3 separate regions of the Homo sapiens genome follow, and regions 2 and 3 are each linked to region 1. Evidence: fine-mapped expression QTL. A gene starts in region 1. Each other region holds a variant in brackets. All regions are shown on one strand. Distances are from middle to middle. Region 1 holds the start of MGAM2 (maltase-glucoamylase 2 (putative)). Region 2 has its middle 6.8 kb from the start of MGAM. Region 3 overlaps MGAM (maltase-glucoamylase).

Region 1 (6,289 bases):
CATTTGTGGCCATCCCAGAGCAGCCCCTACAACATGGACCTATGCTTACAACTCCTGGCCAGCTATTCAGGAAGAGGCTGGGGGCCTTCCTTTTCCACATATGCTCTGTTTTTTAGATCACATAATTTTGCTTTCTTCATAGGTGTGCCAAAATAAAAAAAAAAACACTCTCAAACTCTTTCACTTAAATAGGAAGACATCTATTCCTTTCTTATTAATGTTATAACATTAAATGTCATATATACCTGCAAAGATAAGGTTATGTTGGCCGTGGCAGATGTCTTCAAGATCTCATCAATATTTCTTTGTTCTTGTCATAGCGGCAGAGTCACTGAGAGTTTTGCATCTGGCCTTGGAGAAAGGTGTTCTGGAAGTTAAGGGTGACTCATATTACTAGTTTCTGATCTGATGATTCCAACCAGCAGCTTGCTGTGACAACTGTTTGAGTTCCGCCAATAGCTAACTTTGCCGTGCCTTGTTACCGATAGACAACTGGAAGATGTCGGGTCACGTGCCTGTCTCTACCCTTCAAAGTGGCTCTGTTATTTTCTCATTGGTCAACACCAGTATGGTGATTCAATATCTTCCAGTTACTAGTTAGCAAGAATGGAAGGTGAAGGTAGCTATTTTCTGCACTTTAGGAAACAGGTTATAGATTAGCTGGGCCTGTTGGTTACCACTATTAACATAAATGAAGTCACAAATGTGCATGGCATGTGGGGAGTTAAAGGTAAAATATCACACAAAAAATAGATCTTATGTAACAATAAAATCTCCCTTCTTGACCTTTTGCCAGGATGTCTTCCCAATTTGAAATGAGATCTTGGTACATTTCCCCTCTAACAAAGGCCACCTTGTACTGGGGCAAATGAAAAGCTGAATATGTCATTCCAGCAGTTCATAAATGCAGAAACCGAGTCTCTCTTTCTCTCTCTCTCTCTCTGTCCCTCCCTCTCTCTCTCTCACTTTCTCTCTCTCTCTCCGTGTGTGTGTGTATGTGTGCTTTTCCACATACTGAGCATTTGAAGCAAACACAAAAGATTCACTACTGTGAACACTGTTATTTACAGTTCTTAGGTGCCACCAAAAGAGCTCTCTGTACCCTCATATATTACTGGCAGGAATGGGGGTGTAAAATGGTGCTGCCACATTAGAAAGCAGTTTTGCAGTTCTTCAAAAAGTTAAAGACTTGTCACATGACCCATGATTCCACTCCTAGGTATATTCCAGGCAGAATTTTAAAACGTGTCAGCTCATAGCAGCATCGTTCATAACAGGCAAAAAGTATCAACAACCTAGATGTATATCAGCTGATACATGCCTAAACAAAATGTGGTCTATCCACGCAGTGGATACTATCCAGACATGGAAAGGAACAGACACTGATACCTGAAATGGTGTGGATGAACTTTGAAAATATCATGCCAAGTAAAAGAAGCCAGACACAGATGGCCACATATTGTATTACTGCATTTATATGAAATGTTCACAATAGGCAAATCCATAAGGACAGAAAGTAGGTTAGTGGCTGCAGAAACAGGGGGAGATGGGAATGGGGAGTGACCACTAATTATTTTTGGGGGTGGCAAAAATGTTCTGGAATTAGATAGTGGTGATAGTTTCAGAATTTTGTAAATATATTTTTAAAAACACTGAATTGTATACTTTAAAAGAGTGAATCTTATGGTTTGGAAATTATATGTCAATTTAAAAATCCACTTTAGCTGGCTTAAGAAAAATTTTAAAAAGATATTGGTGACTCATTGAAACTCCGGTAGGACTAGAGAGTCAGGTTTGTAGGCCATGTGGCTAGGGACAAGCCCCAGGTTACCCTGTAGCGGTTTCTACTGCCACTGCCCTGAGCACATATCTGGCAGCTCGCAACCCCAAATACTGAGCATAGGATGCCACTAGGTCTCTTGTCCCTGCTGCCTCTGAAACGAGCTATGCTTCCAACATCCTGGATTTTACATGGTACCTCCTTATCTACACCTTCTTCTGGATGTAAGTCACTCACAGGAATATCTCATTCACAAAGCTCCAGCCACTTGCCTCTACCTTGGATGAAAGAAAGGCTGTGAAAGAGAATTTCTAGCTGTTTCTTTGGGGAGGCAGAATTTGGAGAAAAAGTCCTTAAGTTGATTTAAGTAAGAGGTTTTCTTTTTCTTTTTAAAGAAAGATCCTCCGTTTTTAAATTTTTTTCAACTTTTATTTTAGATTCAGGGTCTAAGATTCAGGGTGCATATACAGGTTCATTTCAAGGGTATATTGTGTGATGCTGAGGTTTGGGGTGTGATTGAACCTGTCACCTAGGTAGTGAGTATAGTACCCAATAGGTAGTGTTACTACCTTTGTCTCCCTCCCCACCTCCCCCATCTTAGCAAGAGGTTTTGAAAGATGCTGAGCCATCGAAGAACATGACAAATGTCCACTAGAGGCATCTTCCCACTTTAGGTTTGTATACATTCTTTCTCTTTTATTTTTTTTGAGATGGAGTTTTGCTCTCGTTGTCCAGGCTGGAGTGCAATAGGGCAATCTCAACTCACTGCCAGCTCCACCTCCTGAGTTCAAGCGATTCTCCTGCCTCAGCCTCCTGGGTAGCTGGGATTACAGCCGCCTGCCACCATGCCTGGCTGTGCAGATGGGGTTTCACCACGTTGGCCAGGCTGGTCTCAAACTCCTGACCTCAGGTGATCCGCCCACCTCGGCCTCCCAACGTGCTGGGATTACAGGTGTGAGCCACTGCACCTGGACGGGTTTGTATAATTGCTACTTTAATGGTACTTCACTATTTAGAATAATTGGTGGAAAGGATCATTTGAATTAATGAAAAGCTGAGTTATACCAAGAGAACTCTGGAGGATGAAAATGGAGAAAAGAACAAAGTGATGAACTAAGAGCTAATCCTTCTTTCACTTACTTATTAAATAAATAGCTATATATTTAAAAAGAACTATGGATATTGGGCAGAGTGCTAAGCACAGGAGATACAACAGTGAAGAAGATAGACAAGACCCTAGCTCTTGAGCCCTTTAGGCTACATGTATAGATGAGGAAACATAACGTGACAAGTAATCAGATATGAACAGGGATACAGAAGAGGGACAATGAGTAGAAAAAAAACCACCTTCCCCTTTTATTAACAAAAGGAGCTTTCATTCTGTGTCACATGGAGAACAAGCGTTCTTTTATGACCTATTGGAATATGCACTCCCCTCCTCCAGTTGCTGTCAACTTTATAAGGCAATAAATTAATTGTGGCAGAAGCTGGCTACCTCAGCCCAGTTACCTTTGCTCAGTGCTCCCTATGAATTGCTGAGGGAGAGATACAGCATAGAAAAAAACAAGGTGATGCGGTGAGTACGCTTCTCCATGCAAGCAGGGCTTTGAACAAGGGCAGGAAGGTCCCTTTCTTTTTGTGTGATTTTCTGTCTGCTGCTCTGTTAAGTGATCTGGATGCCCATGTTTTCCTTCTGGACTTAATATTTTCTTCCTTTTCCATAAAATATGAGGAGTGAGGATGAGATAGTTGATGGAGAGGAGAGACTGTGTGTGTGTGTGTGTGTGTGTGTGTGTGTGTGTGTGTGTGTGTGGTGTCAGTGTTTGGAGGACAGGTTGGGGGAGGTCTGGTGTGAGATCCTCCTCTCTCACTGGGAGAAATTAAGGACAGAGGAAACAGATGGGATCCTTCTGGAAACTATCTCAAGATGGCATGGATTTGGAGGAAGGTGAATTCCTCCCAGCTTTGGGCAGGAAGGGTTTCTAAGTAGGCAAGAATTTCTACCTTTAGGAATCCCCATCCTGTCCTCTGCCTGAATGACAATAGCTCCTAAGGCAGGAAAATACCCAGGGTTATTCCCAGAGCGTTCCTGTACTTCCTGAGCTAAGGTGCTGAACCTGCTCCCTCAGGAGGATTGAGGAGCTGTGGAGTAGGTCCCTGCTGCTGATTTTTAGAAGCTAGAAAGAAAAAAGTCTCCCTGTGGAGAGAAATAATACTTGCAGAAAGAGACCAATTGATGAATAATGCCTTTGCTGTGGTATTGAGTTGTGGGCTGTATGTATAAGAAACGAAGTTTGATACCATAGCACTCTTAGGGTAGGTCCTTCCTACTTCTTTCTCTACCTGAAATTCCACCATTGGAGACCGATCCTCTAAGTCTTTAAGCTCTGCAGCCTAGGATACATTGTCGAGAGAGTATTCAAGTACTATTTTAAAAAGTAGCGGCTCTCGGTGTTTGTCTCAGTTCCACCACTAACCGTGACTAGACAAAATTTCTTAATATTCATCTATAAAATGGAAATCATGATATCTGTCTGATCAGCTTCAATGCAGGGATTTTATGAGAATACAGTCATATGATATATATTTTATAGGGATTAGAGTATATCTTTTAAATAATTTAGACTAAAAGAGAGACAACTGATTAATTTAGGTAAATAGTAAAGAATAGTTAATAAACCTCAATTTTAATCCCAAACCTCGTGTCTCCAAGGGCTAAGGGTTCTTCCTAAATGCCTGTTGGCAAATTACCTGTAGGTCCTAGTTCCTTACCTCTATTTCAATATTAAAGTGCTTCTTTTATGGAATTATTACACATTAACCTAAAGGCTACTGTAATTAAAAATTGAAGCTATATACCTATATAAAAATATTTGTAGAAATGGTCGTGGCATTGGGGAGGAGTTGAGAAGAGCAGGGAGGCAGGGAAATGAAAAGTAAGAGGAGATGCAAAATCAACATAAAAATAAGAGAGAGAACAGTCTTTGTCCCTGCTGACTTATATTTAATAGCTTGTTGCTGCATAAGTGCTGGTTTAGTATGGTGGGAATATGGGGAGAGGAGACGCTGAGCAGCTGGGGTTAGGACGTGCCATGAAGACCTTTGATCACAAAGCTAAAGGGTTTTTGGTTTATTCAGAGATCCATTAAAGGCTTGAATATAGGAGATCCAAATGACCCTGTTTGTGCTGGTCACTTGGGTAATGACCCAAAGATACCGGGAAAGTAGTCTGACTGAACTGTTAACTGGCTGTGAGAACTAACAGAATGAGAGGAATTAAAAAAAGATTCCTAGGTTTTTTTTTTATAATGTGATTCTATTCCTCAAGTTATTAATTATTTGAAGAACAGATAATTTGGCCAAATTGGCAGGAACTGGGAGTGAGGTGTGGGGAGAGATGATTTCATGTTTAAACATGTTAAATCTTATTGAATCTGTGGGACATCCAATAGGCAGTTGAATATATGAATCTAAATCCCTGGGCTAGAAATACAGGTTGGATTGCCATCACATGTCATATAAAGTCACATGAGTGGTGGAGATTACCCAACGTGTCTGCGTAGTTTAAAAAAGAAGCCTATACCAGAATTTGGGGGGCATCAACATTTAATGAAATAGGGCTGAGCGTGGTGCCTCACGCAGGTAATCCTAGCATTTTGGGAGGCCAAGGCGGGCGGATCACCTGAGGTTAGGAGTTCAAGACCAACCTGGCCAACATGGTGAAACCCTGTCTCTACAAAAATATAAAAATTAGCTGGGCATGATGGCGGGTGCCTGTAGTCCTAGCTACTCGCGGGGCTGAGGCGGGAGAATCACTTGAACCTGGGTGGCGGAGGTTGCGGTGAGCCGAGATCGCGCCACTGCACTCCAGCCAGGGCAACAGAGCGAGACTCCATCTCAAAAAAAGAAAGAAAGAAAGAAGGAAAGAAAGAAAGAAAGAAAGAAAGAAAGAAAGAAAGAAAGAAAGAAAGAAAGAAAGAAAGAGAGAAAGAAAGAAAGAAATAGGAGACTACAAAGAATATTGAAGATAAGCCAGAAATAGAGGTGGAAAGCCAAGATTCCTATCAAGGAATCCATATGTGGAAAGTTTCATGGAGGAGAAAGTGGTTAAGTGATTAAGACAGCGCCCATTGTATTCAGCCACTATGTCACTAGTAACCTCGGTGGGAGCATTTCCAGTGGAATGCAGAAAACACAGCCAAGCCAATAACACATGAGGAAGGGAATACAGAAAGTGTGGAACTATCGTTTTGGAAGATTGGCACTGGAAAGAAAAAGAATGTTATTATGCTACCTGCAGAAGCACACAGAGTCATTAACAGAGTTTGGGGTGACTTGGGGTATATTTATGAAGGAAAGATATTCAGAGAGTGAATTTGATAATGCAAGACAATAAGAGATAATTGGTGGAATGAAATTTTTGAGAAATTCAACAGCTGTGAGATCTAGATAACAGATACAAGGATTATGCTTAAACAAGAAGAGGAAAAACTGTTTCATTGAGAATAG
Region 2 (6,289 bases), 120 kb before region 1:
AACTCCCTGACCCCTTGCGCTTCCCGAGTGAGGCAATGCCTCGCCCTGCTTCGGCTCACACACGGTGCGCGCACCCACTGACCTGCGCCCACTGTCTGGCACTCCCTAGTGAGATGAACCCGGTACCTCAGATGGAGATGCAGAAATCACCCGTCTTCTGCGTTGCTCACGCTGGGAGCTGTAGACCGGAGCTGTTCCTATTCGGCCATCTTGGCTCCTCCCCCCAGCATCTTTAATGGCAGCATGGAACCTTGTGATTAGGGACATAAGATCAGTTTTCTCAGCAGGGACCCATGGGTGGGGATTCCTTTTGAGGGATCTCTGGACCCCTCTTAAAGTTTTATTTTGTTCACAAACATGAGCTAAGGGTGAGGAGGTTTTAAGTAAAAGCTGATAGAGCTGTAAGCCATTGGATGACAGCCCTTTCGTGCTTCTTCGTAGCAGATTTCACATAAGAGAACACTGTGTAGCTCTGGCACTTGGAGGGTTCTTTCTCTGTCTGCAGACACGGGAGCTCAAGCCATACCCAGAGACAGTGTGGACATGGCAATTCCCGGAGAGCAGACCAGGAGGAGAGGGAGGTACCTGGAGGAAGGATGCCAAGCCAGAGAAGACAGCAAACATGACAGAGACCGTACATGGCTGTAAGACATTGTTTGTGAATTTAAGACATTTCCTATGGCATTCTTTTCACATTTTTCCCTTGGGGTAGGGGACTGAGGGGAAATATACCTACCAGTGGCTCATTATAGGGGAAAATTTCTGCAGAATTTAGTGTTTGATGTTGAAAAACAATTGTGTACATTTGCATACTATTATATTATACTGCCACAATTTTAGCAATTCAAAATATTGATTGAAATTACTTACTCTTCTCCAATAATCTTGAACTAAAATGGTATTTCCAAGAAAATGCATTATGACCCTCTCAATATGCCACCACATACCTCCTAGGGTATGTGTACCCTCATCTAAAAAAATAGAACTCAATGGGGATGCCAAACAATTGGGAGGGACTTTGTGGAGATTTGGAGGTCCTACACTTGCAGGTGGTGGTAAAAGCCAGAAAAATGCAGATAACAGGAGGACAACTTTTTGCTCATAGGGTAGACTATGATTAGACATTTTTGGTGGAGATATTTATTTATACTGGACAATGGAGACGAAACACGAGCCTGTCATAGCAGGGCTAGCAGGGACCATTTTGTCACATGGCACAGAAACAGAAACTGGAAGTTAGGATAGTGGTGGTGCTGGTAGTGGTGGTGGTAGTCATAGGCATAGTAAAGGTAGTGTTTTGATGAAGAAATAGGAGAATTACATGAAATTAACTTGTACCTTGGCCTTCACAGAAATGAAAAGAATACTGGCAGTTAATCTCTCTGCTTTTCCTTCTGTGGGTTTGAATGTTTTCTTTCTGCTACTCTCTACATGTGTATCCCATTCTCTTTTGGACAAACAAGCATTTTCAGTAAAACTAATCTCTGTATCTTAATAACATGCCGTAATCCCACAGACATAGTGCTCACTCAGTGCAGTATGATTCAGGCACTGTGTCTCAAATCTAAATTTTTGGGAGGGCGAATCCATCTGGACGAAGTCGGATCATCTGTCCAGCTGGTTCACTCAGCTGAGATCAGAGTGTTAGGGTTATGTTGAGCTTCCCACACAGAAGTGGACCATGCAGGTGTCAGCGAGGCACAGGGGAGGGGGGCATGGAGGAAATAATGGGGGTTTCTAGAACAAGATTTGAGCTTAAAGAGAAATAGCCATCTCTGAGGTGAGGATGCTAGAATTTGACAACTGATAGGATTGGAGGGATTCCCGTTTGGGAGACTTGGTGGCAAATCCACTTTGAATTTGTTGAATGAATGAACAAACATTTAGTTTGAAAAAGCCATTTTCTGTATTTACTGCTTTCAAACCCTATGAACATTGGATTCCTGGATTGAAATTAAATTAGTATGACTTTAACCCCACCACTATATGAGTGACCTTTAGCAACTCATTTCTCTTAGTTTCTGTTTCCTCATTTATACATGGGCATTAAAAATACCTGCCTTATCTTAAAGGATTGTTGTGATCAATGAAATAGTACAGATTAAAGTACTCCGAGGCTGGGCGTGGTGGCTCATGCCTTTAATTTCAGCACTTTGGGAGGCCAAGGTGGGTGGATCACCTGAGGTCAGGAGTTCAAGACCAGCCTGGCCAACATGGTGAAACACCATAGCTACTAAAAATACAAAGATTAGCCGGGCGTGGTGGTGCATGCCTGTAATCCCAGCTACTCAGGAGGCTGAGGTGGAAGAATTGGTTGAACCCAGGAGGAGGAGGTTGCAGTGAGCCGAGATTGCGCCACTGCACTTCAGCACTTTAGCCTGTGCAACACAGCAAGACTCTGTCTTAAAAAAAAACAAAAATATTTAAAAGGTACTCTGAAAACTGCAAAGTGTCACACAATGCAAAGTTGTTGTCGTTTTTTGTTTTGTTTTGAGACAGAGTCTCACTCTGTCACCCAGGCTGGAGTGCAGTGGCGCAATCTGGGCTCACTGCAGTCTCTGTTTCCCAAGTTCAAGCGATTCTCTTACCTCAGCCTCCCGAGTAGCTGAGATAACAGGCGCCCGCCACCATGCCTGACTCATTTTTATATCTTTAGTAGAGACGGGGTTTCACCATGTTGACCAGGCTGGTCTCGAACTCCTGACCTCAGGTGATCCACCTGCTTCGGCCTCCCAAAGTGCTGGGATTACAGGCGTGAGCCACCATGCATGGCCAAATGTAAAGTTTTATGTGAATACTAGGTGATGTGTTATTCCTAAAATTCTCTCTGTACTCATACTTGTGTGTGCATGTGTTCTTATCTGTGGTGGTGAAGAGGAAAGGAGTAGAAGACGGTGTAAAGCTGCTAAATAATAGACATTTCACAAGACAAGG[A/G]AATGCTGTAATGTCCTGTGTACATTGTTTCCACTCTCACCTTCCTCTGAACATTTCTGGGCAGAGAAATTACTCCTACTCCAACTAACTCCTTTTTGCCCTTTGCAGGTGGCATGAGATGTTAAGGTCTTTTATATGGGACAAAAGAAGGAAAACAACTTGGCTGCAATAAAAACAGAGGTAAAAATTAATGTTTGTAGGCTATGAAGACTGTGAGAAATCATTTTGATAGGTGGGGGTGTAGATGCCATGTGCTTGTGAGTGTGTGTGTGTGTGTGTGTGTGTATGAGTATGTGAGAGAAAGAGGGAGAGAGAGAGAGAGAGAGAGAAAGAGAGTCTTGTAGTAGTGGTTTTTCTCCATTGGCCTGTGGAATCAGTTCAGTGTGGGATGTGTTGACTGTTTACTGTGGCTATTCCTAAGGGTTGAGGAACTGGAGGAATAGTTCTTAACAGAATTTAAGCTAATGATACTGCTTGTTGGATATTATTTCATTTTCAGAAAGGACTGGCTGAGGAGGGGTTGGGAAACTGACATTGGATGTCAGGTACTTATGTCAGCTTAGGCTCAAAGTAACATCATGAAGTACTCATGATCATCCCTGATTTCCAGATAAGGCAACTGAGCTTCAGAAAATTGAAATGGTTGTCCAAGTTCTGCAGAAAGTAAGTAGAGGACCTCATATTTAAGCCCAGGCTAGTTTGATTTGAAACTCCATGTTCTTCTTTCTTTTTTTTTTTTTCGATTATTAGAGACAGGGTCTTGCTGTGTTGCCCAGGATGGAGTGCAGTGGTGCTATCATAGCTCCCTGCAGCCTCAAACTCCTGGGCTCAAGTGATCCTCTTGCTGCTGTATGGAGGCTGAGAATCCCTAAAGTGCATTCTCCAAATTTTCCAAAATTCCTCAATTTTTATGGAAAATTCCCCAGATTTTCAGTTGAAATCATCTGAAAATTTAACATGAAAATACTCTCCAAAAAAAGATTTATCTTGAATGAAATACTATGTTTGACAATTTCATACTAAAGGGATATTTTAGGGACACCTAATCCACCCATAGTTAATTACTGGTAAAATCCACACAGATAAAATTATTATTTTCTACAAGGATTTTATTCCAGGAAGGGAGAACACATGAAGTCATGTTCCATGTAGGAGGAGGAAGGATGCACACTGGGCCTCATCTGTCACTTCTGGGCTCAGCATTCAGAATGGGCTCTTCATGTGGGTCTGGCTTTGACAGAGAGTTTGAGGAGGCTCTGTGGGCAGCATCTTAAGGAGTGGCTAGCACTCCTCTGAGCACTTTGGGGAATGCACACCTATAAAACAGAGCAATATATTCTTGAATGCACTATTACCCCAGTGGCTTGGGAAAGGGGAAATGTCAGAACGACAATTACAACACACATAGAATGCTTACTATGGCCTATGTATCATGCCAAATGATTCACATGCATTATTTCATTCCCTCCTCATATCTACACAACTTCACTCCAAAGAACATGCACCTGTGCAGCTTCCAGAGTCCCCTGTGGATACTTAGTCTGCTTGGAGGTGTGGGGAGAAGTAATATTCTTCTGGACTAAAAACTGAAAGAAGCAGATAATCCAGTGTTTTGAATCTGTGTAGAAATCTATCTCGTGCTTATGACAGCTCTGGGCAGTTTCTTACCTGCAGTGGTTCCCTATTGCTTGCAAAATCTTCTTGCTGAGATGAGATGCTAGAATCTCTGCATTGTGGCTCCAGTGTACTTTCCCAGAAGTGTCCCTGATTGTCTCACAACTGTCTTCTCTGTGTCTTTTTACTGCAGTTTCTAAAACAGGTTCTGTTATTTCTTTTTTTTTATGTTTTTTTATTTTTTATTTTTTTATTATTATACTTTAAGTTTTAGGGTACATGTGCACAATGTGCAGGTTAGTTACATATGTATACATGTGCCATGCTGGTGCGCTGCACCGGTTCTGTTATTTCTTACCTGTGGGTCTGGCTAATGCTGCTCCCTTCGCCCAAAATATCTTTCCTTTTCGCCTTCCCTTCCCACTTCCACCCAGCTATGGCTTTGATTTCTTTCCTGTCCCTCCCAGCATGTGTATTCTCTGTCCAGTAGCATTTGCTGGTGCTGTCTTCTCTTTAGCATCGTAGCCATTTGACTTCTCTCTGCTATGAGGTCATGGAGGAATCACGCTCATCTATATTTCAGTGCAGGCTTGACCAGACTGCCTGGCTTTGCATTCTGGGTTTGCCTCTCATTAGTTACATGACCTGGGGCAAGTCGCCTTTGTGCCTCAGGTTTCTCATCTGTAAAACTGGGATAATAACAGTACCGACTGCATAGCGTAGTTACCAGGAGGAAGTGAAATAATGCATGGAAATCATTTAGCATAGAACATAGGCCACAGTACGCACTCTGTAGATGTTGTTACTGTTATTCTCATAGTGCCTTGTTTGTAGTACACACATAATGACTGTATATTGATGGAATTGTGTGGAGGAAGTGGTTATTGCTATATTTTCTGTGGCCGGAAGTGAGGAGGCAGCCCCAGGGCTAATGCTTGATCCAGAGGTGGGGTCACAATGGTTAGGGTAAGGGTGGTGGCTGGGGATGGAGAAAAGGATTTTTTTTTTTTTTTGAGACAGAATCTCACTCTGTTGCCCAGGCTGGAGTAGTACAATGGCACAATCTCGGCTCACTGCACCCTCCGCCTCCCAGGTTCAAGCAATTCTCCTGCCTCAGCCTCCTGAGTAGCTGGGATTATAGGCACGCGCTACCATGCCCAGCTAATTTTTGTATTTTTAGTAGAGACGGGGTTTCACTATGTTGGTCAGGCTGATCTCAAACTCCTGACCTCATGATCCGCCTGCCTCAGCCTCCCAAAGTGTTGGGATTACAGGCGTGAGCCACCACACCTGGCCGAGAAAAGGAGATATTTTAATCACATTCCAATCCTCACGTTTGCATAGTCTTCGAGGCTCCCAAGTAGACATGCTTTTCTAATATCTCCAAGCCTAGATAAGGCCATGTCACCAGACAGCAAGCCACTCCAGGCACCACAATGATTATACCTTGGTCTGGCCTGAACCATGTTTTTAAATCCAGGGACTTGGAGCTAAGCCTTTAAACTGCTACAGTCAGGCAACATCATAGATGTTGTGCAGGGTAGGTGTTCAATAATTTTTCCTTTGTAAACATGAATGACTGCCTGCTATGTTCGGAATTCTGATTTGGGGTCGAATGAGAGATTGGCATATTTGAATGGGCCTTGGATTGGGGATTCAGGGTCTGAGCTCTTGTCACAACTGTGGCAGATGCAAACTGATCATATTAATTGTAACTGACACTTACTGAGTATTTACTAAG
Region 3 (5,000 bases), 47 kb before region 1:
CTTATGTGGCCTTCCCAGACTTTTTCCGTAATTCAACTGCCAAGTGGTGGAAGAGGGAAATAGAAGAACTATACAACAATCCACAGAATCCAGAGAGGAGCTTGAAGTTTGATGGCATGTGGATTGTAAGTGTGTGTGTGTCTCTGTGTACCAGTGGCTCTTGTCTATCTTTGTGTGCCTAAGTATATGTACCACTGACCTTCAATCAAGAGGATAGTCATTGTCCAAAGAAGACTTTGGACATAGCAGACACTTCTTCCTCTCAGGAGAGGAACTGCCCTGGTAGCCCTCACACCTTCTACCAGACCTGACGCTCCTACTGTAAAACCTGTGAGGCGGGACCAGGCGTGGTGGTTCACGCCTGTAATCCCAGCACTTTGGGAGGCTGAGGTGGGCAGATCACCTGAGGTTGGGAGTTTGAGACCAGCCTGACCAACATGGAGAAACTCCGTCTCTACTAAAAATACAAAATTAGTTGGGTGTGGTGGCACATGCCTATAATCCCAGCTATTTGGGTAGCTGAGGGAGGAGAATCGCTTGAACATAGGAGGCAGAGTTTGCAGTGAGCCAGGATCGCACCATTGCACTCCAGCCTGGGAAACAAGCATAACTCCATCTCAAAGAATGAAAAACAAAACCAAAAAAAAAACCTGGGAGGCAATTTACTAGGAATTTCTGGAAATTTGATTGCCTCACAGCCACCCTGAAAGAGATCTATTTTTTTACCCCTCTAGCCAGTCGTTCTGTAGGAGTGAATTAATCTTTCTAGCCAGTTCTCACCAGGATTTGATGAAGCTCCCAGGGCTGGCATCTACAGAGATTACTGGATGTTGAACAATTTATTCACTACTTCCTTGGCTCAGAATTGGCAGGACGTAATTATCTTAAAAAGTGAGGTATGTCTGTGTTTGGCATTTCTAGGATATGAATGAACCATCAAGCTTCGTGAATGGGGCAGTTTCTCCAGGCTGCAGGGACGCCTCTCTGAACCACCCTCCCTACATGCCACGTAAGAAGCCTTGGCCTCCTTGACTGGCAGAGCCATGACTGGAAGGATTACACTGGAGGAGCCCGAGGCCAGGGGCAGCCCCACAGCTGAGGGCACATCCTCATGGCTGCTGTGGTTTACTGGGGACCAGAGACAAAAGCTCTGCACGTGCTTTACCCAGCCGGGCATGGGCAAGTGACTAGACTCATTGAGCAAATTTCTTGAAATTTGTCCAGAAAGCACTTAGCAGAGCTCATGGCACAAAGGGTTCTCACAGCTGAGTTTCTTAGTTTTTAGGCTTGTGTGAATTCCATCACAGGAATTTCTTGTGTCATCAGTGAGTGGAAATTACTGGCTTCCCCTTATCATGGAGCTGATGGACTTTGGAGTTACACTTGGGTTCATATCTTGGCTCCAGAAATTGTTCTCTCTAGGAGTTTTGTGACTTTTCACAGATTATGTGATATTTCCAAATCTCAGTTTGCTAAATTGTAAAAGACGGATAATGAGATCTTCTTCATAGAATTATGGAAATAATTGGAAGTCAAAAGCCTAAATCAGAGCCCGTCATGTAGTGTTTGACAGCTGTACGTTCTTCCTGACACCTCTGCTTCCTTCAGTGAACTTGATGTTGGAAACACAGCAGGCGCCAATGCAGCTCAGAGCTGGGGGCGCTGTGCTCATGTCTCTGGGGAGATGGAGAGCGACACAGGCAGGACTGAAGTTAGTCTTAAGATCCAGGGCCCAGTCCCTTGAAGAGAAGTCAGGGAGAAACAGAATCAGGGCTGGGTTTCACCTCGCCAGTTCTTCCTCCTCAGATTTGGAGTCCAGGGACAGGGGCCTGAGCAGCAAGACCCTTTGTATGGAGAGTCAGCAGATCCTCCCAGACGGCTCCCTGGTGCAGCACTACAACGTGCACAACCTGTATGGGTGGTCCCAGACCAGACCCACATACGAGTGAGTCTCCGTCTCCCTTCTCCAGCTGTCACAACCTATAGCGATTGCCAGTGACTGACATAGCTACCCTAGTTTTCCTTTCATTCCATTTCTAAGGATTAAGAAGATTCTCATAACTCTGTAATGATTCTTATTTATTAAACAAATGCTCATTGACATGGAGCCAGGCCCTGTGATTAAAAGTAGGAGGACAGATTTAAATAAGGCATGGTCCCACCAGTGAAAAACTTAATGATCCTAGTGGGAAAGACTCACATGGAGACACCATAATGGTCACACAGGGCAGCCAGTGGAACAATAGCTTTAGTTACAGGAGGTGAAGGGAACACAGAGGACTGGGCATCTCTCCCGTTCATTTCAAAGTGAATCATCTTTGGAGATGTTTGTATTTTTGGCCATTCTTGGTGGAGGGTAACTGGTATTGTACTGAATTAGCACAGTCCTGCTTTGCAAGCTCAATGAATAGTATGAATTCTTCTAAGAGGATCTTATAACCTTCACTGTGTTCCTTCTCAAATATAGAAAACTAAGTATTGAGGAAACCATTAGCAAGACATAGTAATTCCTTAGTATTTTGGGAGTACTCCAGTGAGGCTGCTACAGTGAAGTTCTTTGTAAAGCACTGTGAGAACACGTGACTCATTATCTCCATCATCTGGGATCAGTGGAACTCCTATTACAGCTCAGAGTCCCATGTTCCCTCCAGTCACGCAGCAAACATTGACTAGGCTCAAGGGCTCTGGGAGCAGAAGCTCTATGGCCTTTACTCCCTGGCTGTTGCCTCAGTTCACCTCCTGTTCCCTTCCAAGCAGAGCCGTGCAGGAGGTGACGGGACAGCGAGGGGTCGTCATCACCCGCTCCACATTTCCCTCTTCTGGCCGCTGGGCAGGACATTGGCTGGGAGACAACACGGCCGCATGGGATCAGCTGAAGAAGTCTATCATTGGTGCGTGGGTCCTTCCCCAGGGCCTTTGCCGACAGGGCAGGGAGTTGGGATCCTTAGGGAAGAGGTGAGGAGGCAGATCATGAGAGCCTGGTGTGACACAGCTGTGCTTCTCGTTGCAGGCATGATGGAGTTCAGCCTCTT[T/C]GGCATATCCTATGTGAGTGTCCTTGGGATCCTCCTAAGCACCAAGAAGGTGGGGACATCTTTCAGAAATCATCAGCAGGCTCCTTTTATTTCCTCTTGTTTCAGACGGGAGCAGATATCTGTGGGTTCTTTCAAGACGCTGAGTACGAGATGTGTGTTCGCTGGATGCAGCTGGGGGCCTTTTACCCCTTCTCAAGAAACCACAATACCATTGGGACCAGGGTAGGACAGTGGCTTCTACCTCCACTGTTTTATGTCACTTGAAAGACAGTCTCCATTTCTGTGCTAAAAGTAATGCAGTCTCTATTTCCTGGGATATCTTTAAAAAAAGGTGTTTTTTTTTGTTTTGTTTTGTTTTGTTTTTTTTTTTGAAACAGGGATTTACTCTGTTGGCCAGGCTGAATCGTGCAGTGTCCCAATCATGGCTGACTGCAGCCTCCACCTCTGGGGCTAAAGCGATTGTCCCACGTCAGCCTTCTGAATAGCTGGGATAAAGGCACATCCCAGCGTGGCTACCTAATTTTTGATTTTTTGTAGAAATGGGATCTTGCCATATTTCACAGGATGGTCTCGAACTCCTGGGCTCAAGCGATCCACTCGACAGCCTCCAAAAGTGCTGGGATTACAGGCGTGAGCCACTGCACCCTTAAAAATTGTGAAGACCTGGTGTCTCAATGAACCATATTCCTCATTGTGCTTTAGATTATTATTTTTTTCCTGTATTTCAGGCAGAATTTTACCAAATGTTCCAAAAAGAATGTCTTACAGTGAAATTTTATCAGCTGTCTTAGGAGAGCTTTGGTGACTCTTTCCGGTCTATTAAGAATATTCTCTGGGCCTCATGTATAGTTTTCTTTTGTTTAGCTGTGAGTGATCTTCAATTGGAGTATGCTTTTAGTGACCTTCTTAAATCCCCTAGAAATTCCAGGGCGAGCTCCCAACACTGTTCTCTTTCTCCTTTAGAGACAAGACCCTGTGTCCTGGGATGCTGCTTTTGTGAATATTTCCAGAAATGTCCTGCAGACCAGATACACCCTGTTGCCATATCTGTATACCTTGATGCAAAAGGCCCACACGGAGGGCGTCACTGTTGTGCGGCCTCTGCTCCATGAGTGAGTGTCCAGCAGGGATCCCGATGACTAATGGATGACTTATTGCATTCTATGTGGTAGCAGTTGATATACACAACGCTTCCAAATTAAAGACATGATGGCCTTTTGACATGAGCTCTTCAGACACAAAGTATACCTGATTACTGTCTTTAGCACAGTGTTATACATACCGTAGGTCATAAAAAAAGGGTATTTATTGAATGACGAAAATTGAAATGATGCAGTACAGCATAGAATAGTTTCATTCTAATTTGGTTGTGCAAAGGCCTATCTTATGTAGCAGTTTTGTTATATGGACCCAGGTCACAAAAGAAGGATTTCAGCAAGAGAATTGAGGGACGAGGGCCATCCTCACATTTAAAATGTGCCATGGTTAAGAAATGAGGTAATATTTTACAGGAGAGAACACATCTACATCCCAGCATTTCTGAAGTTTGAGGCACATCCCATGGGGAAAGCAGAGGCTGGGTGCTCCTGATGAAGCTAGGCCTAGGAACAAAGCAAGGATGGCTCAGGGGCAGCTGTATTTCCGACTTGGATCTGAACTTGAGGAGCTTCTTCAGAGTGTCGGGCTGGGGCTCTGTTGGGCTCTGTTGGGCACCTTCATTTCCCTTTCCAGGTTTGTGTCAGACCAGGTGACATGGGACATAGACAGTCAGTTCCTGCTGGGCCCAGCCTTCCTGGTCAGCCCTGTCCTGGAGCGCGTGAGTATGGAGGCCTCCGATGAGGGGAGGATCCCAGCTGTGAGGCTTGGGGAAAAGGACGAGGAGAAGAGGCCTGAGCTGGTGGGGGTCCTGAGACATGGTTTCTTATTCTACCTGTGTCTCTTCCTCTCTTTCTGAGCTGAAGTCCATCA

The links.
Region 2: its variant is fine-mapped to the expression of MGAM2 in whole blood (TOPMed, PIP above 0.99).
Region 3: its variant is fine-mapped to the expression of MGAM2 in tibial nerve (GTEx, PIP above 0.99).

Annotation. Positions count from the first base shown.
Region 1 is chr7:142,108,452-142,114,740 of GRCh38, forward strand. MGAM2 (maltase-glucoamylase 2 (putative)) reads left to right here and starts at 3,267. Exons shown (of 48, transcript NM_001293626.2): 1 at 3,267-3,356.
Region 2 is chr7:141,985,891-141,992,179 of GRCh38, forward strand. It overlaps a transcript of MGAM not described here. Among named protein-coding and RNA genes, the nearest start is that of MGAM, 6.8 kb to the right of the region's middle. The variant A/G (reference allele first, on the strand shown) is at 2,935.
Region 3 is chr7:142,062,578-142,067,577 of GRCh38, forward strand. MGAM (maltase-glucoamylase) reads left to right here. Exons shown (of 71, transcript NM_001365693.1): 35 at 1-125; 36 at 922-1,009; 37 at 1,807-1,945; 38 at 2,758-2,891; 39 at 3,011-3,045; 40 at 3,138-3,254; 41 at 3,996-4,144; 42 at 4,764-4,848. Among named protein-coding and RNA genes, the nearest start is that of MGAM2, 47 kb to the right of the region's middle. The variant T/C (reference allele first, on the strand shown) is at 3,033.